Linked DNA regions of Homo sapiens. The protein of the gene in region 2 purifies or fractionates together with the protein of the main gene of each other region. This does not show direct contact. Each region holds a gene or a part of one and is shown on either strand. Other genes may lie near its edges. The genes, in order: LRP1B, OLFM3 and RNF20.

What was found.
Region 1: the proteins of OLFM3 (region 2) and LRP1B purify together in Homo sapiens (affinity purification with mass spectrometry; 2 studies listed by BioGRID and IntAct, with this or other methods). This does not show direct contact.
Region 3: the proteins of OLFM3 (region 2) and RNF20 purify together in Homo sapiens (affinity purification with mass spectrometry; 2 studies listed by BioGRID and IntAct, with this or other methods). This does not show direct contact.

Annotation. Positions count from the first base shown.
Region 1 is NC_000002.12:140,699,733-140,707,409, reverse strand, and holds part of LRP1B (low-density lipoprotein receptor-related protein 1B precursor), read left to right. Parts: intron 1-4,856; coding exon 4,857-4,983; intron 4,984-5,117; coding exon 5,118-5,269; intron 5,270-5,564; coding exon 5,565-5,689; intron 5,690-6,788; coding exon 6,789-7,160; intron 7,161-7,677. UniProt on the Homo sapiens protein: Potential cell surface proteins that bind and internalize ligands in the process of receptor-mediated endocytosis.
Region 2 is NC_000001.11:101,801,610-101,805,153, forward strand, and holds the end of OLFM3 (noelin-3 isoform 2 precursor), read right to left. Parts: intron 3,307-3,544; coding exon 2,629-3,306; 3' UTR 951-2,628; downstream 1-950.
Region 3 is NC_000009.12:101,529,174-101,537,294, reverse strand, and holds the start of RNF20 (E3 ubiquitin-protein ligase BRE1A), read right to left. Parts: upstream 3,443-8,121; 5' UTR 3,381-3,442; exon of another isoform or gene 2,995-3,380; intron 1,898-2,994; 5' UTR 1,872-1,897; coding exon 1,743-1,871; intron 1-1,742. UniProt on the Homo sapiens protein: Component of the RNF20/40 E3 ubiquitin-protein ligase complex that mediates monoubiquitination of 'Lys-120' of histone H2B (H2BK120ub1).

The DNA.
Region 1 (7,677 bases), on a different chromosome or scaffold from region 2:
TTGTTTCTCTTACTTTTTGCAGATAGGGTAACTCACTGTTGACTCCCACGCTAGGAGACGACACAATGACATTCTCGATTCTTTTCTTGACCAAGGCCAACTGCCGACATAAGAGAATTACCTGATCTTCATTTCTGTGCCAGCATGAACATTTTTTGGTTATCTCAGGTTTTCTTTATCATATGTAACAAAGGATCTAAATCATACTCACTTAGGGAAGCCAGAAAAGTAGGAAGAAATGGCACATTTATTGTAAAAATTGCAACTCAAATTCGAGCTCTAGGGAAACAGTTTAGCAATCAAAGAAGAGAATTTTAAATCCAGAGAAAATGATTAATGCCAACTAGTCTTGCTTTTCACAACTGTTCACATATGTAGAGTATAAGGATAACATTTAATACTGTTTCTCTTAAAAAATAGACTTATTTATTATTTTCTTTCACTCCATTACCCTTCTCACACAAAAATCAGAGCTTTGTCACTAATGTTAGCTGTCTCAAATTTATTCATGGGCATTTATAATAATTTGAATGTGTATTTTTTCAGGTTGAGTATAACTGCCTGTGACAGGAAAAAAAAAAGTTTTTCCTGAAAAGTATACCTGTATCTAGACTAATTCTGATGTCAATCTGTACAGTTGTCAGAAGACAAATACAATTAACTTTCAGGGTCCATTAAGGGTTTGCTAGGCCTTTGGGCGCTCCAGTGCTACCAAATGTGATCTTTTTACCTATTTATCCAAATGTCAATAATCAGTTGGAAATTAACTCATGATATGTGCTCATTGCACTGTCTTCCTGCTCAAAACTGTTAGAGTCTAGTTAAGACAATAAAGACATTTGTATTATGACAGTTTCTGATAAAATTTCTATAATTCTGAAAGCCACTTTTAAATGTCCCTTTTAAAATTATATGTTTTTAAATTTATAAGTGCAAGCTTATTTAAATAAAGAACATTTTTTAGTTTAACAAATACTATTTTATTATTCAGATAAAATTCAGTTACACAATATAGCATTTGATTTGGACAAGTTTAATATTTTCTAGATTTCAGAAAGTATTTTTAGTAGGGCTACATGTGCCCATCTGATACTCTAAAATCAGTTTTTCTTGGCTATATCATATAGTGAACACGTTTTTCACAACTGCAAAATTTGAACTCAAATAGGTTCAAACTCAATAGTAATTTTGTCAGTCAATGTTAATATCAGTAGGGTCTGAACCTACTGGTCAAAAACCAGGGACAAATATTTTCATTTCTTCCTATTGCTAAAGACCACATTTAGATGCCAAGAATCTATGTTCATTAATGATATCTCAGGTGCATCTATGTAAGTTATTACCTTAAATTACAAGTCTCTTTCTGCAGTTTTACGAGCTTGGAGAGGGTTCTTTCTCTACATTTGGTTTATAATCCCCAAAGTTTCTCAAGGTGCAAATTCCATTCATTTCTTTACTTTCAATTTCAGTTTAAGGAGCAAATAAATTATTATTTGCTTGACATAAAATGTTTACTTAATTTTGATAGGATTAAAACCTTTTACTTTTATTCAGTTGATAAATTATTTAACTCTAAAAGTGAGTCCTACACAGAAAGATTTGGCTTCACATATAATGATACCATATCTAATCACTACTGTTTTCCACAGGAAAAGAATTGTGTAAATTCTGGATTAAAAAATAGTTTTACTTAGAATAATTTTATGCATTTTTTTTTACATTTATCTCAGCCTCTTGCATGAAAGTATCACAAATTTAAAATGAATAGGGGTTACTTGGAAAAAAAGAGAGTGACTTCTTTCTCAGAGCTAAGACCTTTTTCATATTTTGTTTTCTGTGTGTGTCTGTGTTTTTTTTTTTTTTTTTTTTTTTTTTTTTTTTTTTTTTTGAGACAGTCTCACTCTGTTCCCCATGCTGGAGTGCAATGGTGTGATCTTGGCTCACTGCGGACTCTGTGTCCCGGGTTCCAGTGATTCTCCTGCCTCAGCCTCCCAGGTAGCTGGGACTACAGGCACATGCCACCATGCTAGGCTAATTTTTGTATTTTTAGTAGAGAAGGGGTTTCACCATGTTGGCCAGGCTTGTCTCAAACTCCTTACCTCAAGTGATACGCCTGCCTCAGCCTCCCAAAGTGTTAGTATTACAGGTGTGAAGCCACTGTGCCAGGACTGTTTTTTGGTTTTAAATATGGAGATTTTTTGTTACGCATCTTATAGCTAAGGAAAAATAACATTTGATATAATATCATTATATATTTCTGTGTTATCTTTCTATTTGGTGAGACAGTGTATTCTAGGGAAGACAATATAGGCCTGGATTAGTAAAGCCTGAGTGTGGTTCTTGGCTTGCCCTCTTATTGGCCATGTGGACTGTGGATCATTTACTTCCTAGTCATAATTACCATAGCTGTGAGAATTAGGGCTAAGTAGGTTGGTTGCTACAAAAGTAATTGTGCTTTTTGCCATTACTTTTAATAGCAATAAACACATTTATTTGTGTACCAACCTATAAATAGCTTATTTGATCTGTTCACTCAAAATAATATTTTTATTAGTGCATTTGCAAGTAGATTAACATTAATTAAAATCTTTAATATGCACATTTCTTTTCTTATGTGAACTTTGGAATATGTTAAAAATAGATGATAAGAATCAGATTAGACAGGTAAGCACATGTCTGCCCTGGTCTCACAGTGCCTCCTTCACAGTATAACATTACCTGCCATTTTAATACATGTTTTTCCTTAAAAAGTTAAGTGTAGCAATACATTTCATTTGCGAGTTAGTTATTTTATATTGAATAATATTTTTCATCCACTGACAGCGTACCTTAAAGTCTTAAAAATCTTGACGTTAATAAAGGTGTAGATTTTTAAATGCCTGCTTCAATTATATCTTACCAATAAAATATTAGTTGGATTTTATGCTACAAAGTTTTTCCTTTCTGATTTATAAAGCTTGTAAATATGAATGAAATTTTCTTCAGGATTAATATAATTGAGATTGTAGCCATACCTCATTTTTGTTTGTCTGTAAAACTCTACAATGTTTATTTTACACAGCATTTTCAAGAAAAATATCAACTATTAAAACAAATTAATATACATAAATAATACATATATTTTTATCTAGTTAAGTATCACTTTGTACTTAAATAACTCCAGTGAGTATAAACAAAATATAAGTCTTTAATTTTTCTGTATGCAGTCTCACTGATTCTTACGTGACTATTCACATATATTATTCAAATATCCTGACGAGGCTGCAGGAAAAAGGGAATGCTTAAACACTGTTGGTGAGGATGTAAATTAGTTCAGCCACTGTGGAAAGCAGTTTGGAGATTTTACAAGGAACTTAAAACAGAGCTACCATTCAAATAATCCCATTACTGGGCATATACCCAAAGGAAAATGCATCATTATACCAAAAAGACACATGCACTCATATGTCCATCACCCTGCTTTTCACAATTGCAAAAACGTAACATAAACCTAGGTGCCCGTCAATAGTAGACTGCAAAAAGAAAATGTACATCTATACTGTGGAATACTTTGAAGCAATGAAAACAGCCCTTTTGCAGCAACATGGCTGGAGCTGGAGGCCATAAACCTAAATGAATTGATGCAGGAACAGAAAAGCAAGCACTGAGTGTTCTCACTTATAAGTGGGAGCTAAGCATTGAGCACACATGAACATGAACATGGGAACAAGAGACACTGTGGACTACTTGGGGATTGGGGGAACTACCCATTAGGTACTATGTTGACTATTTAGGTGCCATATAACTTCTAAGAACTAGAAAAAGATACAATAATTTTTAAAAATTAGGAACTATACACCCAGCTGTTGAATCAATGCTTCCCATATTTTTTAAAACTTTATTCACTGCTGATGTCTGATAGTTGGATAAAAACTTCAGTAGATGTAACTTCAAATTAAGAATTAAGAAGGAATTATATTTATCTAAAAGCATGGATTTCTGTATAGTCCTATGAATATCGAATTTTTTGAATGAATGAGTGAAATACATGGATTATGTACATTCTGTTTTTCTACATTTTATTTTATGACATGTTGTTTTATTTTGGCATACTATATGTGTTCTTTCTGCATGACATTTTCTTTCACATAGTCCCCCATTACATTTTGTTTTATAAGATTACTAAAATAAGAATTTCTGCTTTTGCATAAAACCGTATTTTAAGATGACTTCACAAGATAACATAAAATTCAAACTAGATTAGTTACATTTAGCAGTCTAAGTAGAAAAAATAGAAAGTTATGATGCATTCATGTCTATATTCATAAATTAAATATGTATTTACCACAAAATTTCTAATTACCTGGTGCTAAAGGAGTAATAGTGAATGAAAATAGAGGAGTGATCACTGTCCTTGTTGAGCTTACAGTCTAGTGGGGGCAAAAAATATTTATAATAAATGATAATGTAAGGAAATACAAGTGGAAATTTGCCATTCTAATCTGTGTTGTGAAGCAGAGCACATGGTACAGGGAAGACACAGAAGGCTTCTGGAAAGAAATAGTTGAGATATGAAAAGTAGGAAGTAATTAGGCAAACAGATTGGAGAAGAGCATTTGAGACAGGAAATAGCAGGCACAAAAGGTATTTTGGTAGGATGTTGAGTGCATCCTATGATTTGTATGACTGGTTAACTATTTTTTTACGATAAAAATTATTTTATCGGAACCATAAGCACACTGTATATTAACTTCCGAAATGTATTATTTTTATTCTAGTGTGAATGCTACTGCTGTTATTAGTAATGTCTTTTTGCATAGCTCTGCATACTACAAATAAATGTACATAAACACTACAAATTAACAATTTAATTTCAGCCTCTTGTTCTGGACTGAATGGGGACAAATGCCCTGTATTGGAAAGGCTCGCTTGGATGGCTCAGAGAAGGTTGTCCTTGTAAGCATGGGAATAGCATGGCCGAATGGCATCTCCATCGACTATGAGGTCTGTTGGATTTCTTTTCAGTATTTAAAGTGCCTTAACTGACAACTTTAATTTACCTACTTTTAGTGTTCCTTTATTTTCTTAATAAAACAATCAAATATAGTCTGTAACGTTACTTCTTAATCGATATTTAGGAAAATAAATTGTACTGGTGTGATGCTCGCACAGACAAGATAGAGAGAATCGACCTTGAGACTGGAGGGAATCGCGAGATGGTGCTGTCAGGAAGCAATGTGGATATGTTTTCAGTTGCAGTCTTTGGGGCTTACATCTACTGGTCTGACAGGTAATTTATTTTTTCATAAGTATTTGAGTCTCAAAATGTTATTTCAGTGCCAGTTGCTTTACCCTTGTAGGATTTACCATTTCTTAGCAAGGTCACAAAAAGGAACTCACAAAGCCAGTAATTTCCACAGAAAAGGCAGGTACTCTTGCTATTCCAAGCTGAAGCATTTCAATGTCACAGACTAAAGTTGGTTTCTTTCCCTTCTGTTGGTCCATCTGTTATCTTCAGCTTAAGTAACTGGCTTGACTTTAATTAGTCGAAGATTGTTGATCATGTATGTTCAACTTTTTGGCAGAGCACATGCAAACGGGTCTGTCAGAAGGGGCCACAAGAATGATGCCACAGAAACGATAACCATGAGAACCGGCCTTGGAGTCAACCTGAAGGAGGTTAAAATATTTAACCGAGTAAGAGAGAAAGGTCAGCACTCTTGAAAGAATACATAATATGTATATTTTATGTGATTTCTCTCCAATTTTTAAAAACATTGTCAAACTTAGAAATTCTTCTATAAGTCTAAAACCTCAAAACATTATCTTTACATCTAATTTCCTGCAAGTATCATATAGTAGCCTAATACAATAAATATGTCATATTTCATACAAAAGCGTATTTGCCCAGGACAGCACAGGTACATGGACATGTTACATACCTGGCATGTCTTGATTATAGGTTTTGGCTAAGGAATATAGAAAAACTTGAAACATGTATTGATTGGATAAAAAATTAAAAGCATAAGTAGGATATTAATAAAAGGCAGTTGAAATTTTTATACATAATATGAATCATATTATATAATAAGTGGTTATGATCCCAAAGGTGATGCTGTTAATGTAAAATATTTCCAAAGTCATTACTTCCTTAAAATATTTATTCTAAACTTACAGGACAATGATTTGGGTATTTAAAATTTGTTTACCTCCATTAAAATAAATTGTAACTAACTTTTTTGTATCAAAGGAAGTTATAATAATGTTGGAGATAATAATAATGAATTCACAAAGGAGAATTAGACTGGTGAAGAAATTTTAAGTGCATTTTTTATCTTCACTTAAAATTGGAGTAAGAACTTATGCTCAGCATATTTAGGAGGTTAGGCACATTGTAGCTATAGATTTCTTTGATGCTTTCCATATCTCAAAGATAGAGTTTAAAGCAGTGCATTATTTCTGGTGAGATCAATTCATGTTTTAAATGAACAATATATGAAACACTATAAGTATCAAGTTTCAAAAAAGATTTATATACTTAACTGGTTCATTAAGGGAAAAATTTAATGCTTAACTTGGATGGTGAATGAAACAGACTATGATTTTCCAAATAAAGAAACCCAAGATTTAAACTGCTGTGATTTTTTAAAAAACAATACTTTTTTAATTTTTTATTGACCAGCTTAAAATTAAGAGCAAAAAGAGAATATTCAACATCAAAGTTTTAATATTTCTTTATGGAGAATTTTGTTTCAAAAACAAAAGAAAAACATAAACATGTGCATGTGTGTATCATTTTTCTTCATTAGGGACCAATGTTTGTGCCAGGGACAATGGTGGCTGTAAGCAACTCTGTCTTTATCGAGGAAATTCCCGGAGAACTTGTGCTTGTGCCCATGGATATTTGGCAGAAGATGGAGTTACTTGCCTGAGGCATGAAGGCTATTTACTGTATTCAGGAAGAACAATATTAAAAAGTATACATCTTTCTGATGAAACCAATTTAAATTCCCCAATAAGGCCATATGAGAATCCACGTTATTTCAAGAATGTCATAGCCTTGGCTTTTGACTATAATCAAAGAAGAAAAGGTACCAACCGAATCTTTTACAGTGATGCACACTTTGGAAATATACAGCTTATTAAAGACAACTGGGAAGACAGACAAGTAATTGTTGAAAGTAAGTACAGTAATTCAATTTTAAATAGGTGGAAATGAGTATCATTTAGATTACTAGAGAAATAATAGTGGTAATTGCATGTAGCAATTACATTTTCCTAGATTTTATATTCAGGAATGAATGTGACTATATCATCTAACCCTCACCCCCCACCCCCCCGCCAAATGTCAAAGAAGCAATTAATTGCTAGCATGTACAGCAAATTATGATTATTACCTTCTAATCATGGAAGGTTTAATATGTTTTATCATAATGTTTCTTATAAATAACTGCACTAAAATTCATGAAAAATCATTTTTCAGTGTAAAACTATTCTAATTGATTTTTTTTTTCCAGTGGGCAAATTGTATATTTAAGAATATCTGTTCAGTAATAGTTAATCATAGTTTCTCAAGCAAACATCAGAGATTTTTTTTCTGTATATATGTGTATATATATAAAATATATATATAATATATATTATATATGATATATCATGTATATGTAGCAGATGAGAAAATGTTATGGAAATGATCTA
Region 2 (3,544 bases):
ATAGTTCTATTTATATAACACATCTGCTGTTCTTTTTTCTTTTATCTCTACATATTGGAAACATACTGAAATACTATCATTATCTGAACTCGTAGATGTAAGTTTAGGTGCAAATAATAAGCATTGTGATTCAAGCGCCACAAATAACACACAAACACAATCAGACCATGAACATATTATTATTTGAGTGATATGAAAGCTTGTTAATGTTCTGGCCAATTCAGAAAATATCAGTTACGTAGTTCAGTTAGGATTAAGACTTTCTGAGCTTGGATTTCTCCAATGCTTTGATTATGTGCGTGATTTAAAAATACTCATTATTTCCCTCGTAAGATTTATTTTCTTTGTTGGAGATTAAAAAAACAGTGAATAGAGTAGTTCTTATTTATTTCAGGCAAAAAACTGATAATAATTTATTAAGAAAAAATGCTTTTAAACTGTAAATGTTTAATGATTATCACATTTTAAAATTCATGTTTCCCCACTTCTAGTGACAATAATAATATCTGTGCTTGCTCTAGCAGCACATACACTATAAATTGGAAATCATGATAAAATCTTACATAGAAAACAATAAAGTGGTTTGCAAGTTTCATACCTCATGAATAAGCTGTGATCAGCCAAATTGTGAATGTATGTGGTACCATATAACATCATTTTAAACAAGTAATGATGATCCAGATATCTATTAGAGGCTATCTACTTAAAATTTCATTCATTTTTAAAATTAAAGTGACTTTCTTTCCTCATACAAACTCAATATATGGAACACAGACTGGTTGTTTTTGTGGTGTGTGTACAATGACAAGTGAATCTCTTAAATTTTCCAACTCCCAGTAGCAAACCAGAGCTTATGTAAACTCGTTAAAAAAAGAATAAAATATTGCAAAAGGACCCAGAGTAGTCATTCAATCATGTTAACTTTTTGTAGGCAAAAAAAGAAATCATTGTTAAACCTTGACAGTTTCAAGATTGGGTTATTTAATTCTACAATTTTGACAGTGAGATATTTGAGGATGATGCTTTACTTGTGACATTTGAAATGAATTACACTTAAATGTTAGGATTTCTTTACATGATGCTTTATCTAAATCATTACATCCTTATCTTTCAAAGAAAATCATGGTACTATGTATGTGTGAAACTAAACATTTAAAACAATTTGTTTTATTATTTATTATAGAATATACTTTTTAAATTGTAAAACCAACCTATATTAGTTTCCATAAAGCTGCCTTAGGGAACTATTTTTTTAATATGTGGAAAATACATCCAAACTCAATGAAATGTTTGATATATAGTTAGCTTATATGTTTCATAGAGTTATTAACATAAGTATTATTAAAGCTCTTCCCTTTTGGTTACATTATTTTTCCACATACAGTGAATCAAGGTAACAAGGGGTCGTTTTTCCATTTTGTTTTCTGAATTGGTTATTTACACTTTTGAAACCACAAAGACAACTCCCAAGTCTCCCCATATTTTATTTTGCACAAATCTTGCCAATAACTCCTCAGGGCTCATAATCTAAATCTAGAGGACATTACAGAATTTTTTTTTTCTAAGAGTTTTCAAATGTGCTTATTTTCAGGGTCCTGACATAAGGAATTTCATTATTGCAAGTTGTATGTAAAATATAAATTAAATGCTAGTACATTTAACTATGAAGAACAAAATTTCTTTAGTGTATAATAAATGAGTAGAGTCAACTCAAATCCAATATTTGGAATCCAGATGCACCTTGTGCAAGAAACTATATGGGTTGCATTCAGTGGAGTGAACAGAGTAACTCAGTTGTATGAAATCAGTTGTTGCATTCAATGTCAGTGGCCCAAAAAACTTGGGGTAAAATAAAGACTCTATGTCAGGTGTCTGGTTTGGTTTTCATTTTAGTTTATAATGCTTATGTAAAGGGGTAAGCCAAGAAGATTATTCTTGACCACACTTGAAAATGGACTCAATTACTGAGGTTAAATTTCAGTGTATTTTATAAAAAATATTACTTTCACAGAAGTGAAGAGATACAATAGCACAATGGTGGTTACAATGGTAGAAATACATACTGCCAATAAAATGTTAGCAAGAGATTTAAAAATGACTGTACAGCACCGCATCAGAGAATTGTGTTAACAGCAAAATGATTAATATTATTTTTCAATATAAATGAAATCCTTACATTTTTTAAAGAAATAAATGGGATAAAAGTGCTTTTTGTTCTCCTAATTCCTACCAAAATATTTCCTGATATGGAGCAAAAGACAGTAAAAAATGACAGTTTTAAAAAAAAAGACATTCGTGCATTTAAGCCACCATTAGTCTCTGACTCTAATATAAGGCAGATCATTAATCTCTTGCAAAACTATGACTTTAGCCACTTAAACTCTTTTTTTTTTTAGTGCTTTTCATGACAAGGACATGATAGGCCTTGTAAATTTAGAAGTTAAGATGTGTTTCCAACATGGTAAGTTAGACAAGCTCAGCTATGTTTTTGAAACACCAACTTTACAATAAAAATGCTTTGCTTTGGAGAAATGATGAAAAATAATAGTGAAGAAAAAAACGGAAGGGGTCTTATAGAGTTTATCACAAATCACACTGTTTAAATCAATGAAAACATGTCACATTTGCCTATGTGTCATCCTCTGTCTTGATGATATGGAAAAGGGTGACATTGAACAGCACCTGGTGGCCATTGTTCCAGGCATAGAGAGCTCGATCTCTTGCATTGTAGTCAAGCATGGATATGTGAAAGTATTGGTTATGGAAGGGAATGTCTGTGTACTCATATGTGGAGGTTTTGGTGGAATAGGAATAATACACCTTGGCTCCAGTTAAGTGGGAGTTGGTGACATACAGTGTCCCACAGATCATGAAAGATTCCCCTGCACTTCTCTTGGGGTAGCCAGTGCTCCAGCTCTTCATCACCTCCAAGGTATCTTGGTTAAGTTGGCTGATGACAATATTGCCTGCATTCTGGTTAGTTGCATACACAGCCCACAGCCCGATTTCATCAGCCATTAGGTCGATGTCAGAGAATCCACCCCATGTGTAGGGGTAAACATTATGAAAACCAGCATACTCCAGGCTTCGTTGGGCAAGCACTCTCCCCATATCAAAGCTGTATTTGATGATGATATTACTCTGATACTTGTTAAAATAGAGTGAGCCATTGTAGACAACATGGTTAGTTCCTGCCCACTTGAAAGGAAGGTTGTATGTCCTTGATTCAGCCCCACTGACAAAGTCTGCAATTGATTTGTATTCACGAACAATTTTATTGTTAGTATAACTGTCCATGTACCAGACCTGAGAAGAAGGAAAAAAATAAATGGAGTGACTAAATTCTGTACTTTTCTGATAACCCCAAAAGAAAGACAGTGAGAGTCAACACTTATTATAATTCTCAGGCTCTGGAAGCCACACTATCTTACTGCTGACCTGCCGCAATGTATTTCAGGCTTTTGTAAAAATATTGCTATGGTCTGTCCATGTGGAAAAGAAATAACTGAATTTACTACCTTGACATTAATTTGCTTTTTTGCTT
Region 3 (8,121 bases), on a different chromosome or scaffold from region 2:
TGAGTTATCCAATCCATCAGCAGATCTTATCAATGCTACCTCCACAGTGGTCCAAGCCACCATGATTTCTCATTAAGATTACTGCAAAGGCCTCCTATAGCAAAAACTCTGTGCTAAGTCCTGTCAGCCTGCCAGATTTCAGCACAGCTGTGGTGGACAGCTCCATTTACACTGCCATTGTTCCCACTTCAAGCACACTTTGGAGACTCAGTTTTTCTGTCCCGCAATCACAGCTGGCTCCTAACAGCAATCTCAAAATGCACAGGAGGGACTGCTTTCAATGGCAACCTTCAACCAATTGGAGCGGGGATCAGTGGATACATGCCTCAGATCCCCACCTTTGGAGAGATGCAGTTATAGCGAAAGAGAGTAAGAAGAAGAAAAGAAAAAAGTCTGCTAGCTGGACTCTTGTTTATAATCCTTGCTTTTCTATAGTCTCCAAACACAAGTCAGAGCATGTTAGTCTCCTACTTAAGACTATCCACTAACTCCTCATTGCCTCTGGATAAAGTCCACACTGGGGTGTGTGCTATGTGCTTCCCATAAGTATGTGCTTATCCCTGTCAACAGCACATACCCCACTCTAAACAGTCTATTCCCTTGTCAGTGCTACCCTACAAACTAAAGTCTAGGGGCTGTCTTCAGTGTAAAGGATAGTGTCTGGCAAATAACAAATACTCAACAAATATTTATATATTGAGTGAATAAATGCCTTTGGAATGCATGATGCAAGGCAGTGCTAAAACAAAAATCACTTCCTGCCAGCAATATTAAGTACCAGAACCTCAGGCAGCCTCAGAAATGACACTTCATCAACAACTCACTATGAATGTTCCTATTATTCTGACTCAAAAAAAAAAATCAGCCTCTCTAAAATAAACCTCAGCCTCAAAATCAAATAAGCAATAGATGTGGTTTTGCAAGCCATACAAATGTAAAGCATTTTACAAAATGTAAAACATTTTAATATCACATCCCCATGTCTGATTTTCAAAAAAGCAAAATCTTGACGTAGATCAAAACCTGTAAACTTCTGATGTCTAACAGATATATAACATTACTATGAGATTTTGGTATATAATACTCATTTTGTCAGCTCCATAAGAGCAAGGATAATATCTATGTTATGCACCATTATATTATCTAGCCCAATATTAGCTATGAATGCCTCCCATTTATTGACTATTTACTATATTAAATGCAAAGTGTTAGCCCTTAACAGGGACTCTTATTTTATATGCATAAAAATCTAATGTAGCAGGTACTCTAATTACATTTTACAGACAAGAAAACAGGCAAAGGAAGGATAACACAAGGTCAGCCAGCTAGGAAGTGGTACAGCTCAGAGTCAACTCCAGGCAATCTGGTCTCAGACTCTCACTCTTCACCATACTCTCAATGATTGCTAAACTGTCTCTTAGAATCTGGTACTGACTTTTTCAGTGAATGAAAAATAAATGTGTATCTTCCCACTGCTAAATACCTATAGTTAATGTTGTATCAGGCACCACCTTCCCAGATTCTCGAAAGAATATAAGTACACCTTGAAAACAAAGAACAACTATCAATCTACCTCTCCTCTAGAACTGACTACCACATCATTTTACCTACTTTCAGCCTGTTTTATTTCCCTCTTCTTTTCAAATAGCTTCCCCATACTCCAGAAAGCTTCCATGAATTTTTAGTTTCAAGTTGCAACTGACAGAAGACAAGCACACTTTCATGGCACTGTTTCCTCATACCGTTGAAGAGACACCTCCTAGCTTAATTGTTTCCACTGTGGTCCCTGAATCTTCAACAGCTGCCTTCTTCTCAGGAGGCATGGAGGTGCCAGGTTCTCCAGCTGCTCTTTTATTTCCAATTCCTGACATTTTGGCAGAAGAAGACAGTCGTTTTCCTGATAGAAAAAAAGGCAGAAACTGACATAATATATGTAAGCAAAGCAACAATAGAGTAAAACAATAGAGTAAAAACTAGCAACTTTTCTGGCCAACCCTTTAACCTGGATCCATTAATTCCACAACCATCTCCATATTTCTCTTTGAGGAAAAAAAAAAAAAATTAAATTGTAGAGTAAAAGTCAAGGCGGGCCGGGCGCGGTGGCTCATGTCTGTAATCCCAGCACTTTGGGAGGCCGAGGCGGGCGGATCAAGAGGTCAGAAGATCGAGACCATCCTGCCTAACACGGTGAAACCCCGTCTCTACTAAAAATACAAAAAATTAGCCAGGCGTGGTGGCGGGCGCCGGTAGTCCCAGCTACTCGGGAGGCTAAGGCAGGAGAATCACTTGAACCCGGGAGGCGGAGCTTGCAGTGAGCCGAGATCGCACCACAGCACTCCAGCCTGGGCAACAGAGCGGGACTCCGTCTCAAAAAAAAAAAAAAAAGAAAGTCAAGGCTAAATTTACATGACTATAAATTTCTAAATAGGATGGTGATAAGAATGGTGATAAGAAATGAGACAATGGGCAAAGGGTGAAGAGACCAAAAATAAAGTTCTGGAATCTCTCTTCCTGTAATGCCAAAATCAGAAAAGGGCAGTTTGATTATGCCAGAAGTTAATACTACAGTGTTGAAAGAATCACAGAGCTGAAAGAGATCTGTGAAATGCCTACTAAAGTCATTAGTACTAGACAAGTCAGTTATCATCTCTAAGCCTCAGTTTCCTAACCCAGGAATAAATAACCACAGTATATACTTCCTATGCTTATTATAAAATAAAATGGATGATATAATTATAGAAAGAATTTGGCACAAAGCCGAACACAAAGTAAGCACTCAGAAACCCCAGCTCTTCTTTAACGTTTGCAGTGTTTTCCCTATTTCCAAACGCTCTCTCCACTGTTTTATGCAACCCTACGTTAGTTAGACCTGGGTGCGAATTTCAGTTCTGCCTGTTAGAGGCCGTGTTGCTTTGAAACAGTGAATTCGCCAAGAGCTTCAGTTTCCTCAACTGCACAATATTAACGAATATATTTTTCGTCTGCCCTGCCTACCTCCCAGGGTGCTCAAAGGAGGCGGAATGGATGCTAAAGCACTTTGGCTACTTCAGGAAACAACGCAGCCATCACCGAGACTAACAAGACTACTCTGCTTCCAATTCAAGCTCCAGGAGAGGACTATCGCTGGCAACAACCTCAGTAGGACCTCGCCTGGAGAGAGAAGACACAGAAGCAGAACAAGGCTGCAATCCAACTCGCTAAAAGCCAAAGACCTCAGCCTCAGCGTGGATAATTGCAGGCCCAGGAGACTGACGGCCCCAAAACTGGAGAGGGTGGAGACTCCTGAGGCCTGGCACAGTCCTGTTGGGCCCTAAGCGTGATCTAACCTAAGTTCTTTGAACTGGCGCCGCGCGGGAACAGAACTCGCAGCAGTTACTCACCAAGGCCCGTGCAGAGATTCCAGCTCTCACCCCTGACCCGCGGCGGAGACAAGGCAGAACTTCCGGGAGGCGGGGCCACGGAGAGGAAAAAGGGAAAGAAAAAAGGAAGTGGCTTCAACCCAGCCCATAGGACTATGAGACCCCGCCGGGCGGAAGTGACGTACGGAGAGGGCACGAGAAGCTTGAGCAAGCGCCGCCTCCCTAGCAACGCTGGGCAAGCGCGGGACCCTCTCCTGGCTACGACCTCTAAGAGTACTCGGGCCTCGCTGATGCCTGACGGAGAGCCCTTGGCTTTTGTTGACTTGTTGACCTTTGCTACTGCGATCTGGTCTTTCTGCGGGGATAAAGTTCCTCATTCTGTTGCTTGTCATTGGGGTTGCCATCACTCGTTCAGACGGCCGATTGGCTGACGGTCCCGTCAATCTCCGGGGACATGACTAGCCTCAGACACCTCAGAAAATTGTTCGTTGGTACCCCTACGTGCTGAAATGAAGAGTTCTGGAGAGAATCTGAGGGATTTGAGGAATTTCAGATGTTGGGGATTTTTTCCCCCGCACAGGGAGCGGTATTCTGCCCTGTCTACACATTAGAATCACTTGGCCTGGACAAAAGCTTTTTTAAAAAAGCGTTCCCCTCATCTCCTCCCCCCAAACCCCGCATTTCCATCCACTAGATTCTAATGCGTAAGCAGGAGTGACAACTACTGCCCTTGTGCTTTTTTGGGAACAAGAAATTGTCCAGGGAAAAGATAAACGCCAATCAGTCTCTGATCTCAGTACTAGTCTATTTTAAGCTAATTAAGCATTGATTTTTTTTTTTAAGTTTATGACAAACTGCTATTTTCCATTCAGTTAAACTAAATGCGTTTTAATGATAGGACGGTAATTAATCTAACCTATTAATGAAAAGCTGTATGTCTCGCAGAACTATGATAAACTACCTAATGACGTCAGCTAAGGGTCTAGAAATGGAAGAATGATCGCTATATCTTTTTTAAAAAATAGAATTTAGGCATCTTGGGAAAAAAAGAAGCTAATCTACACTGGATTTCTGTTAGTGTGAAGACTTTTGTCCCTGTACCTGCTAGGGCTTACCTGTAAATGAAGTAAGATGGTCAACACCAGGGAAACAAGTGTTCCTGGTGCCTGGCAGTGGAACACCTTGACTATCTTGGAAAGAATTAACTGGCCCCAAGTGGACTTCACATTTCATTCCGTGAAGTGGGAGCCTGAGAACATGTGAGTGGGGACACACCTGCCGAAAAGCATTGTATGAGACAATGACACTCATTCTCTCATCTTCTTTGGTTCCTCTACTCTTAGCAAGCCTTTCATTCATAGAACTACTGAATGGCAAGTAATGGTTTTTCTAGCCCAGAAAACTAGAGGTTCACAGACTGCATTTAGCCAACAGTTATGCTTTGTTTATTTTAGACAGTATTGGCTGTCCTGCGTGGTTAAAAACAAGAACAAAAATGAACTTAGTTGCCAACATTTAAAATATGGCTATTTTACATAAAAATCCAAATTATCAGTTTCTCTAAAAAATGTTGATGATCTTGCAACAGAAGGGTTATATTTTTGCATGGTCACATTGCTTAGAGCAAAGTAGTGGCTTCTTCTTTTTTTTTTTTTTTCTTTTTTTCGAGACAGAGTCTTACTCTGTCACCCAGGCTGGAGTGCAGTGGCACAATCTCGGCTCACTGCAAACTCCACCTCACAGGTTCAAGCAATTCCCATGCCTCAGCCTCCCAAGTGGGTGGGATCACAGGCACACGCCACCACACCTGGCTAATTTTTGTATTTTTAGTAGAGATGGGGTTTCGCCATGTTGGCTAGGCCGGTCTCAAACTCCTGACCTCGGACGATCCATCCACCTCAGCCTCCCAAAGTGCTGAGATTACAGGCCTGAGCCACAGCTACTGGCAATGAGCCACCACGCTTGGCGTGGCTCTCTTTTATTAATAGATCATGTTATTCTTGTTTACCATAATCCCCACTAATCTTTACTGGTTCCTTAGCACTAGTATAGTTTAATTTGAGTATCATCACTTGTGTGTTACATTGTGATAAATCAATTGCTGGTACTACGTAAGTGTCTGGTGGACATTATTGGTGATCTACCCAACAGCTATTCCCCTTCCCTCACCTTAGCAGAACCAGGATTTTTTTCATGTATCCATATAGCACTTTGATTCCATTAAGTCTTAGGGAAAACTGATTTCACCCCAATCTCCAAGGATTGTCTTAAATACTAAGTTCCATTTCCCAAGCCAAAGTCCTAGTCAGCAATTGACACTTTAATCAGGGTGAATTTCTTTGAATACTAGAATTGAAGCAGATTTTTATCTTCCAGATTTTCTGTGTGAGGCTGAAACTGTTGGAGGCTTCCTGAGATCATTCTTGAGAATGGAGCGACCACATAGGGGTGAGCAGAACCAAGAGAATCTCAGGGAAATGGAGCCAATCAACTGAGTTAGGTCACCCCTAACTTCAACCCACACTTGAGTGTTAGAGAAGATTCTACAAAGAGAGCAGACTTTTCTAGTACCTTTCAATTCTCACCATGTAGGTAACCATATTCTCTAGCAACTGGGATATATGTCTTTCTCAAAAGTTCCAGTTATCTAACACCTTCACAGGTGTCACAGCTCTCCAGAAAATAAAATCAACTCTGTGTGTGTGTGTGTGTGTGTGTGTGTGTGTGTGTGTGTGTGTGTAGAAAGAGATTTGAGAAAGAGAGAGAGGGACATTATAAGGAATTGGTTCACAGGATTGTGGTGGCTGGATAAACCAAAATCTACAAGGCAGGTTTGCAACCTGGAGCCCCAGGAAAGATTTGCAGTTTAAGTCTAAAGGCAGTCTGCTGGCAGAATTCATTCTTGCTCAGGGGAGGTTAGTCTTTGTTCTATTAAGGCTCTCAACTGATTGGATGAGGCCTACCTACATTTTGGAGGGTAATCTGCTTTAGTCTACCAATTTAAATATTAATCTCATCCAAAAAAACAAACAAACAAACAAACAAACAAAAACACCTTCACAGAATCATCCAGAATAATGTTTCACCAACTATTTGGGCACAGTGGCCCAGCGAAATTGACACATAAAATTAACCATCATAGTAGGTAACCATATTCTGCAGCTACTGGTGAGATCTGTCTTTTCTGAGCACCTCAGTCAGCCATCTGACATCTTCAAAGTAGCCTGTCTCACTCTAGCGAATTGGGAAAATAGAATAGATGAAGAGGAGGATGGCAGAGATCTCTCTCATTGAATGCATTCCCCATTCATTTCTGACCAGCCACCTTCTGTTCACCATCTTAATCAAGAGAAAAAGGAATATCCCTGGAAAAATAAGTTTTTCCCTCACTTATAAATGGGAAAACAGCATTAGCAATGATAAAAAGAATACTTAATATTTTATTTCACTTTTAAAGTCTCATTGCTTGTATCAAAAACATAATTTAAGCAAATAGTAATCTTTTTTAAAAGGAGAAAACAGACTCAGATTTTAAGTGATTTTTTTTTTCAAATGATGACTTAATGAGTATTTGTTGAAGGACCCAAGTCATTCGACCTCCAGCCGGTCTTCATTAACTACCCAATTCTGCCACAAGGTGGCATAAGGCGACACGCCTCTTTACCCAGTTCCCTTTCTAAAGCTTTGGTTGCACAGTACTGCGCATCAGTCATGTCCTGTCTTCACCCTAACTCTTAGAAACTTGGACAACTACTGAGGGTAGGCTTAATGCTCTCAAAATGGACAAAATTAAGATATTTTGGATTTTTGTTTATTGTTTTTTTCTACACTGCTTTACAAATGTTTTGTTCTAAGATTGTTATATCTCCAGGCATTCCAATATTCCATGAAATCTGGATTGGATTGTATGCCAGACATAATTCAGGAACTCCCTTATTTTAAACAAGTTGTATTTTACTTAGCATGGTATCACTCGTTAAACAGAAACATTTAGATACCATAGCCCTTGCTCTAGACTTGCTGAATCAGAATTTCCGGGGGAAAGCTCTCTGAAAATGCAAGTTCTTACTTTTGTAATTATGCTTCCTATCTGGGCACATTTAAGGAACACTGCTCTAGGTAATGATGTCCAGGTCCACCTGGGAGTGTCCTACAAAAACGAGCCCCCTCCTCTTGTCCTCACCTTTCCCTTCTCCTACCATTCACCCTCGCCACACCTTTCTCCTTCATTTCCATACCCCTGCCTCCTTCTCCCCAGATCACCTGGCCCACTATACTACATCATACTCAGCCCTCTTACTTTGTAATTTCTGGGGACCAGGGAGGTGGCTTACTCAGGGGAGCTAGAGCCAGGTCTGCCTTTTTTAAAGAGTGAGGACAAGGTGTCCTAACAGTCTATGGAAACGTGAGAGCTAATTGGTAGTCACAAATTGTCAGAGGAGCCCCATTTAGTTTAATGCTCTCTTAAAAAGCTGAGAGAAGGCCGGGCGCGGTGGCTTATGCCTGTAATCCCAGCACTTTGGGAGGCCAAGGCGGGCGGATCACCTGATGTCAGGAGTTCAAGACCAGCCTGGCCAACATGGTGAAACCCTGTCCCTACTAAAAATACAAAATTAGCTGGGCATGGTGGTGGTCGCCTGTAATTCCAGCTACTCGGGAGGCTGAGGCAGGAGAATCACTTGAACCCAGGAGGCAAAGGTTGCAGTGAGCCGAGATCACACCATTGCACTCCAGCCTGGGCAAAAAGAGTGAAACTCCATTT